Regions from separate parts of the Homo sapiens genome. Here all the other regions are reported to be linked to region 1. The links are microRNA targets in miRTarBase. Many come from high-throughput screens and were not tested one by one. Region 1 holds a microRNA gene; each other region holds the end of a gene's coding sequence.
The links. Region 1 holds the annotated microRNA hsa-miR-548y (AAAAGUAAUCACUGUUUUUGCC, at 1,323-1,344, shown strand). A microRNA usually pairs through its seed, bases 2 to 8, with sites in the 3' UTR of a target mRNA and lowers its output. Matches are read on the target gene's strand: a 7mer-m8 pairs with bases 2 to 8, a 7mer-A1 pairs with bases 2 to 7 and ends in A, and an 8mer does both.

Region 1 (3,359 bases):
AATCTTAATCTTTAGGTATCCTAGGGTCAACTTTTTCTCCAGGGTAGAATTTGAAATTATCTCTGCTAGGAGTTTGATGTAGTAAGACCTGGGACCAGGCTTGCTGACATAATGCCAGGTTTCCAGGATCAGCTCCCTCAAGCTTAGTCTCTGGAACACAATGCTAATTTCAACACTTGTCTCAGGCTAGCTCCAACTTTCCCATTTGTGTCTTGCAGGTAGCGCACTGTTCTTTGATTCTATCTCAGGATTCAGGTCATTTTTTGCATGTTTATTAGGTTGTTTATTTAAGGGGTGCTTGGAGATTTACTTATTTCCCTGCAACCACAGCAGTGCATTGAAATGTAGATTTTATAAAGAAGCTAGTAGTTTTCCTCATAAGTTATTTATGTTGATTCTGAAGATCTTTATGTCTTGGGTGTTTGGTTTTGGTTTTAGCACTGTGTGTGTGTGTGTGTGTGTGTGTGTGTGTATGTGTGTGTGTGTGTCTGTGCGTGTGTGTGTAATTTCATCTTATTTTGCAGCAGATCCAGTGTGCTTCTCAAATATTAGGTTCATGCTATTGATTTTGAAAAAATCATCATTACCATCTCATTCCCTCTTATTCTTTCATTGAATCTATCCCATTTTAATCTATTATCTTATTTATCTCTTAAACTTGCTTTTAGTAACTGTAAAATCCTCAGCTCTTTCTCTCTGTTAATTGCCTGTTGAGAATTATCTGCTTTTTAATCATCGTGTCGGAGTCTATTATTTGCTTTCTCAATATCCATATATTTCGTGTAGTAATGCTATTTTTAGCTGAATATGTGTCCATTTACCTAAATATAACATTTTTCAGCACTTTTTGCAGCTACTTTGGGTCAGTTAAATGGTATATACGTGAAATTGATGTACAACATTTGGATCACAGTTTTAAAAGGAAAAGAGTAGGTCTTCCCATTCTTCTTTCCCACTACAATGGAATGTATGTTTGTGGCCCCCTAAATTCATATGTTGAAACCGTAATCCCTCATCTCAATGTGATAGTGTTTGGAGGTGGTACCTTTCAGAGTCGATGAAGTAATACTGTTAGTGCTCTCATGGATGGGATTAGTGCTCTTATGAGAAGAGGCCATAGAGTAGCTAGCTCTCTTCCCTTCATATGAAAATAAGATCTTGGTAGTCTATAAACCAAGAAGTGAGCCTCAACAGACACATAATCTGCCAGCACCTTTATCTTGAACTTCCTAGCCTCCAGCACTATGAGAAACAACTGTTTGTTGTTTAAGCCACCAGCCTATAGTAGTTTGTGACAGCAGCCTAAACTATTAGGTTGGTGCAAAAGTAATCACTGTTTTTGCCATTACTCTCAGTGGCAAAAACCGTGATTACTTTTGCACCAACCTAGTAACACCTTCACTGTGGGGGTGCAGACATGGCAGATGTGGAGCATCCAAGCTGGACTCTGATTAAAAAGCTAATTGAGGAAGTTACAATAAAGGATCTGGTTTGTTGACAATGTGGAAATGTCTTATCTATCATCGAAGTCCTGAAATGCTTACAATTTATGAAAGAGAAATAGGCCGGGCGTGGTGGCTCACGCCTGTAATCCCAGCACTTTGGGAGGCAGAGGCAGGCGGATCATGAGGTCAGGAGGTCGAGACCATCCTGGCTAACACGGTGAAACCCCGTCTCTAACAAAAGTACAAAAAATTAGCTGGGCGTGGTGTCGGGCACCTGTAGTCCCAGCTACTCCGGAGGCTGAGGCAGGAGAATGGCGTGAACCCGGAAGGCGGAGCTTGCAGTGAGCCAAGATGCATCACTGCACTCCAGCCTGGGCGACGAGCGAGACTCTGTCTCAAAAAAAAAAAAAAAAAAGAAAGAGAAATAAACATCTATCTTATCTGAACTACTGTTTATGTGGAATTTTGTCAAAGCCACCCATATCCTGTTCAGGATTTATATATATTATATATATATAAATCTATATATTAGAAGGTTTTTCTTATTTAATATATTTTTCATTTTATAACTTCTATTTGGCCTCTTTTCAAATATATCTGCTTTTTATGTCACCTTATCTCTTATAGTAATTGATTTCCTCTTTCCTGCTTCATTCAATTTAAAGCTACTTATTTTATAGTCTCTATGTCAGAGTCTGATCTGAGAAGCAGTACCACCAGATTTGTGTATAATAAGGGATTTGTAATAGGGATTTGCCTTATATATTTGTGGAAACTGTTGAAAAGTCTTTGTGAAACTATTGTTTCTGTGTCTAGTGCTGAGCCTAAAGTCATCAGCGCACACAGTCTGAAAGATAAAATGGACGTAAAATGAGGGAAGCGAGACAAACTGGTACCTGCAAGAATAAACCCGAATCTATCAGGACAGAGTTGCAACCCTGCTTCCATGTGTCCAACTTTAAAGTTGGGGTAATCTGCAGGAGGAGCTGCTATGAGCTAAACCATACCTCACTGAAAGTCAGAGTGATTGAAAGTGGGTGTCTGGCAGCTGTGGCATTTCTGAGGGCCCAGCTACTGCCCTACTCCAACAATGTGATCCCACAGATAAATGACACCTGTGTGAGCTACAACAGTGCCATGTGCCCAGTGCTGACTTTCTGAAAATAAAAAGAATATAGATGCTGTTTCATTTCATCCTTCCAACTCTCATACAAAATATCTCTCATGGCCCTCACTAACAAAGATGATATGGTTTGGCTGTGTCCCCACCCAAATCTTATCTTGAATTCCCGAGTGTTACGTGAGGGACCTGGTGGAAAGTAACTGGATCACGGGGGCAGGTCTTTCCCATGGTGTTGGGTGGGTCTCATGAGATCTGATGGTATTACAAGGGGGAGTTTCCCTGCACAAGTGCTCTCTTTCTTTGCCTGCAGCCATCCATGTAAGACATGACTTGCTCCTTCTGCCGTGATTGTGAGGCTTCCCCAGCCACATGGAACTGTAGGTCCATGTTAAACTTCTTTCTTTTGTAAATTGCCTAGTCTCAGGTATGTCTTTATCGTCAGTGTGAAAATGGACTAATACCAAAGAACTATGCTTGGAGGGGAATTCTGGGGAATGCAATTCCAGTTTAGTTCATTTGGCATGATACAAATCCACCATAGTCTCTGTAGTAACCAACATTCAATATTTTCCTAGTAAACATTGGCTCCTGGTATTCACACTCCTATCTAATTCCATCCCACAATTAATAGGACTTACATATATGACAGATAGAATATTGTTGAAGTGAAAGTGTGTGATGTAAGAATTAGGTCATTAAAAAGTTTACAGCCTCCTCTCTGGTCTTCCATTTTTCTCATTTTGGGAGGAGTTAGCTACCGTGTTCTGAGGACACTCAAGTAGCCATGTAGA
Region 2 (3,359 bases), not on the chromosome of region 1:
GTGGATCACGAGATCAGGAGATTGAGAGCATCCTGGCTAGCATGGTGAAACTCCGTCTACACTAAAAATACAAAAAATTAGTGGGGTGTGGTAGTGGGTGCCTGTAGTCTCAGCAACTCAGGAGGCTGAGGCAGGAGAATAGCGTGAACCCGGGAGGTGGAGCTTGCAGTGAGCTGAGATCGCGCCACTGCACTCCAGCCTGGGTGACAGAGTAAGACTCTGTCTCAAAACAAACAAACAAACAAAAAAATTCACCTGGTGCGGTGGTGGTGGTGGTGCTTGCCTGTAGTCCCAGCTACTCAGGAGGCTGAGGCAGGATAATCGCTTGAACTTGGGAGGTGGAGGTGCAGTGAGCCAAGACTGCGCCACTGCACTGTAGCCTTGGTGACAAAGTGAAATTCCATCTCAAAAAACCCTGGATCTCAAATCCAACATTAATACCATCTTTCATTTAAGTAGCATTTTATAGTTTATATACTTCTACCATTTTCTTTAAAAAAACAAAACAAAACAAAAAAAACTATGTAGCACAGGCAGAGTAGGTATCATGCCCCAGTTACAGATGAAACCAAATTGAAGAGCAAGTTAAATGCCTTTCGCAAATAGCAAATGGCAAAGCTACAATACTTATAACTATACCTACAAACTTTCACCATTCCTTTTCCTTAGAGCTCTTATGCTAAAAACTTGGGTCAATATTAGTATGTAATTTTTAAGAAAGATGGTTAATTAAATCGATGAGGCTTTTTTTTGTTGTTGCTGTCATAAAAGTGGAGATAACATGATGTATTAGTCCGCTTTCATGCTGCTGACAAAGACATACCCAAGACTGGGTAATTTATAAAGAAAAAGGTTTAATGGACTCACAGTTCCACGTGGCTGGGGAGGCCTCATAACCATGGCAAAAGGTGAAAGGCATGTCTTACATGGACACAGGCAAGAGAGAAAATGAGAACCAAGAGAAAGGGGTTTCCTCTTATAAAACCATCAGATCTTGTGAGACTTACTTATTCACTACCATGAGAACAGTGGGGGAAACTGCTCCCATGATTCAATTATTTTCCACTGGGTCCCTCCCACAACACATGGGAATTATGGGAGCTACAATTCAAGATGAGATTTGGGTGAGGAAAGAGCTAAACCGTATCACCTGAGTTAGATCTCAAGGGTTCTTTTGAGGAGCAAATAACATATGCAGCATACATAGCTCAATGTCCAGTCCAAATGTTATTTAGGCCTCTGTCCTCACTGACTGTGACAGGGCTCTCTTCTAAGCTTGATAACCTCTACCCTTAGAGCACTGAGTATCATCTGAAATTACAAATTCTCAGATAGTATAGGCAAATTTATTTCTATGGTAGAAGCATTTATTTCAGATATAGAAAAATAACACTATTTCAAAGTCAGAGTAAGTAAACAGAAGTATATTTTTTCCTTGCATACCCATCCTCAAATGTCAACACACAGTTTCCAGCCATTCTTACAAGGAACAAATGCAAAATTAAAGTAATAACTGTCAACAGAAGAGCTGTATTAAAGCTACGTATCAACCTTGAAAATCAGAAAACACAAAGTGATCTAGTGCAGTGATTCTCAACTTTAGTGTGTATCAGAATCACTTGGATTGTGGAAAAAGCACCTTCAGAGAGCTGAAGGAAAATCATCAGGTCAAGCAAGCCCTTGGTCTCAGAATAAATATCAAAGAGACTAAAGATACGTGCTTTGTTCCTCAGGGAAGAGGGAAGGACAAAATATACTACAATATAGAAGATCAGCCATTTACTCTGTGTCACTTCTCTGAGCTTCACATTCAGAAATAACGACAGATACAACTCTCAAGAATTGTTCTACATATTAGGTTAGATAGTGTAATAAGTGCTTCTCCAATCCATAATACATACCTACTATCATTATTTCAACATCATTATTATTTGATACGGAGTACATCTTCCCCACCTACCCCCTACTCCCAAATGGCTGCTATTACTTATTTTAAAAGTCAAACAATCAGTCATTGGGTTCAAGCTCATGGACTACAAGTACCATTTTTATACTGGTATCATTTTTACTAGCTTCAACTATTCACTTATAAGATTTCAGTACATTACTGAAATGACATTTTTGTACCCAAACTAAGACAATGACTGAAAGAAAAGGAACTAAAGCTTTAAAATTGCGTCTTGCTTCTAAAGCATTAATAGTGAGAAAAAGAATTCTTTTCAAAGTGACCCATTTTAGAAAATTTCTGATGTTCTCTGTATTGTTTTCTGAATCTGAGAAGGCTATTTATAGATGGAAACATGGGAATAAAATACCTATAATCTTCATCACTTCCTATATTCAATATACTACACAGTAACATTTCATAGTTAAAGTTTTTGGCCATTTAAGTACCTACCCACATAAATATCTGAGGTTTTAATATTCTAAAACTATAAAACATAGCTATAGAGGTACACAGTTAGGCTAGGACAGGGTTTCTCAACCTCAGGACTAATGATATTTTGGGTTGGAAAATTCTTTACTGAGTGTGGGGGGGTGTTGAGGAGGTATGCATTGCACAGTAGCAACCTTTTCCCCACCCCAGTTTTGACAACCCAACATGTCTCCAGACATCACCAAATTGGTCTTCTGAAGGCCAAAATCTACCCCAGATGAGAACTTCTGGGCTAGAATTTTATATGGACATAATTGTAAACTCTGGGTACACAGACAATACAAGACTCTATGTAATATTATAAGGTAAAGAGTCCAGCACAGTAAGTTTCTGCTATACTGTTTACGCTAGGGCACAGCTTTTATATACTACTTAGGCATACAGTTATCCACATATAACTTTTTCCTACTGAACACTGACATTAGACAAGAAACCACAGCTAATCCAGCAACCATCATTATATCACCTGATATGAGAAAAATCTAGAGTTTTCAAACATTTGCTAAATGGAAGCCTGGAAAAATCACTGCAAGTGTCCTTCTTTCTGAATTCGAAGTCTGTCTTTCTCTACCTGTAAGCGTTCCTTTTCAATCTGCAGCTTCTCAGATTCAAACTTCAAAAACTGCAGCCTATCCTTTTCCAGTTGCAAGCGTTCTCGCTCAAGTTTTAACTTCTCTGTTTCTATGTCCTGTGGTTGAAGCATGGATTTTTCTCCTTGACCAAGTTCATTTTCCAAGGACGGTTTCTCTGAATTGACTATCTGTAACCTCAACTTTTCTCTTTCAATCTGCAGCCGCTCCTTCTCTAGCTGAAGCCGCTCATGTTCCATGTCTAAATGCCGCAGCCTCTCTTTCTCGATTTGTAGGCGTTCCTTTTCTACCTGCAGCCTTTCGGCCTCGATATCCAGTCGTCGTTTTTCCAA
Region 3 (3,000 bases), not on the chromosome of region 1:
TGCCCCCTCCAACAAGAGGTCGAGGGCGTGGAGGTAGAGGTGGTTATGGATATCCTCCAGATTATTATGGATATGAAGATTATTATGATTATTATGGTTATGATTACCATAACTATCGTGGTGGATATGAAGATCCATACTATGGTTATGAAGATTTTCAAGTTGGAGCTAGAGGAAGGGGTGGTAGAGGAGCAAGGGGTGCTGCTCCATCCAGAGGTCGTGGGGCTGCTCCTCCCCGCGGTAGAGCCGGTTATTCACAGAGAGGAGGTCCTGGATCAGCAAGAGGCGTTCGAGGTGCGAGAGGAGGTGCCCAACAACAAAGAGGCCGCGGGGTACGTGGTGCGAGGGGTGGCCGCGGTGGAAATGTAGGAGGAAAGCGCAAAGCTGATGGGTACAACCAGCCAGATTCCAAGCGGCGCCAGACCAATAATCAGAACTGGGGCTCCCAACCCATTGCTCAGCAACCGCTCCAAGGTGGTGATCATTCTGGTAACTATGGTTACAAATCTGAAAACCAGGAGTTTTATCAGGATACTTTTGGGCAACAGTGGAAGTAGAAACAGTAGGGCCTCTGTAAAATTGGAGACTGATAGGTTGATCAGAAACTCACCCTAAATCTGAACGGGTGCCGCTATAATTTGTGACATCTGGCAAGATTTCCCTTTATGTATATATTTTAACAATCCGCTTGGACACGAACAAAGCCACACTTCTAACTGCTTCTGGCGAACTGATTTTATTTTTAATTTTTTTCAATAAAGATATTCTTAGATACTGAAAGAAATAGTTAATGAGTTTGCATTTGTGCTTGAGAAAATTTGGCTCAAGTCCATTTGGCTGTAGTGTCAACGATGTTTCCAGTAGTGTTTAGATTTGGTGTCTTCAAAGGTAGTTGATTAAAACCAAGTGTGTCTTTAATATCTTGTATCAGAATAACTTTGTATGTTACCAACTTAAATTGCTAGAATAAGGTAAATTGATACACAACTGCTATTTTTAATTTAGAACTTTGACCTAATTTGGGTTTTCAAAACCATTTTGGCTACTTGTATTCTTTATGCTGTTGTTTATTTCAATAAAAAATTCACACCTAAATGTATACTTACTAAAATTGTGTTTACAATTCGTTTTTCACAAAATTTCCTGCAAATTTGGTTCAAATTGTATAGCATGTCAAGGCCAATTAAAGGGTTTTGTGCCTTGTTAATTCTTGTGTGGAATATGTCTGCACATTACACAACACTGATTTATTGCAGTTTTCTGCTTCTGGTTTAAAGTGCTATTTTACAACAGACTTCATGTTCCCATCAAAAATAAAAAGATAATACATGTAGTAAGTTTAAGTTGGTAAGTATTTTAGAGTTCTTAATTGTGATGAATGAACTGTATAAAAGGACAAATTCAGGTAGTCTCAAAGGGTTTGCAGGTCACACTGACAAGTCCACTTTCAGTTGCCTAAAGTTTATCCTAACTAACCTAAAACTCAGATTGAGTATATTGCCCTCTTGACTGTTTTGCACACCATGGGACTAGAAAGCAGCAAAGAAACTCTAGTGTGAAAACAATGGGAATAGGTTTGGGTAATTTGTGAGTTGCACTCTAAATAATCACTGTACTTACCTAATTAAAAATAAAACAGCTTTACAGTTAGTTTTGGGTAAGCAAATATATATCTGAAGGATAAAATTTACCTCACAGACTGGTTTGTATTAAAGATCTAATAGTTTGGATTTTTGTTTCACATTTTAGTCTTGTTTTGGCCATATGGTCTATACTTCTAACAGTAATGATGGGAAAATGTTAGAGTTTTGGGGGACAGACTCTAGGTCAACAGTGAAAAGGTTTAACAGCCACTCCCCACTTCTGAACCTCCATCACCCTTGAATTTAAAGGTATTATACCTGACAATAAAGTTACATGTGAAAAATACATGACTTGAAAGACAAACTTTCTTAAAAATGTCACTAAATTTCAAATCTCAAGGTCAAACAAGTCTGAGATGTTTGCTTTCAGCATATTTTATGATTACTTCATGTCTCAAAAATGGGAATTACTTGCAAGTTAATGGGTAACTTTAAGGTGTGACTTCATTTAGGTTTCCTGTTAGTCTTTTTTTTTTTTTAAATAAAATCAGTTTGTGAACAAAATGGGGTTTTCAAACCTCAGTCCAGCCTCCTCACTCAAAGGGGCAAAAAAGCAACCAAAAACCTCAAAGCAAGTAAAAAACAAGCAAAAAGAAGTTCATAGTTATTAAAGGCAACTTTTTTGGCTAGACAGTATATTTAGAATTACCATGTTAAGGCTTGTCTTTTTAATGTTATCATTATGTATGTACACATTATTAATTTAAGATGATTTATCTAACTGATTCCTTTTGTTACCTGGCTAGCAGGGAAAAGGGGTCGAGGCCGGTCCTGACCTGTTACAATGAAGACTGACTTGCTATGTGGGATTACACCAGAAGCTTGCAGTGGAGTAATGGTAAGGAAATCAAGCAACCTTAAATATGTCGGCTGTATAGGAGCATATTCTATTGCAGAAGACCTTCCTATGAAGATCATGGAATCAAATACGGGACATTGAACTAATACTTGGACTTTGATATGAATTTCTTTAACAATTTTCTCTGCAGTGCAAGTTATTAAACTAAAGCTACTCTATTTTCAAAATGTGTTCCAACAGAAATCCTTCATAACTCCTAGCATGGTATCTTAATAAAGAATAAAGTTCTTTTAAAAATCTGCTCTAAGTAGATTTTTCCCCTTTTTTAAATTAAGGATCCCAACAGTGGTATTTTGAAATATTCTCTTGAATTTGTGCATTTAAATTTTATTGCAGTGGTATAGATGAATGCCACTGATGGTATCCTTAAATTTTATTTCTGCTCACCAAGGTTAATCATGATTGTCTATATCTTTTTTATAGTGATCACTTTTGAATTGTGTTCAGATATGCAGTTTCAGGTGTAATCATCAGAGCTGGTTAGTCAGGCATTCCAGA

Region 2: the mRNA of MSANTD4 is a reported target of hsa-miR-548y. Seed matches in the 3' UTR shown: 8mer at 1,503-1,510.
Region 3: miRTarBase lists SYNCRIP as a target of hsa-miR-548y. The part of its 3' UTR that is shown has no 7-base or 8-base seed match.

The regions. Positions count from the first base shown.
Region 1 is chr14:47,759,046-47,762,404 of GRCh38, reverse strand. MIR548Y (microRNA 548y) reads left to right here and starts at 1,301; the gene lies at 1,301-1,410.
Region 2 is chr11:106,006,575-106,009,933 of GRCh38, forward strand. MSANTD4 (Myb/SANT DNA binding domain containing 4 with coiled-coils) reads right to left here. Exons shown (of 3, transcript NM_032424.3): 3 at 1,325-3,359. The coding sequence ends at 2,961. Among named protein-coding and RNA genes, the nearest start is that of MSANTD4, 14 kb to the right of the region's middle.
Region 3 is chr6:85,612,313-85,615,312 of GRCh38, reverse strand. SYNCRIP (synaptotagmin binding cytoplasmic RNA interacting protein) reads left to right here. Exons shown (of 11, transcript NM_006372.5): 11 at 1-1,337. The coding sequence ends at 557. Among named protein-coding and RNA genes, the nearest start is that of SNX14, 20 kb to the right of the region's middle.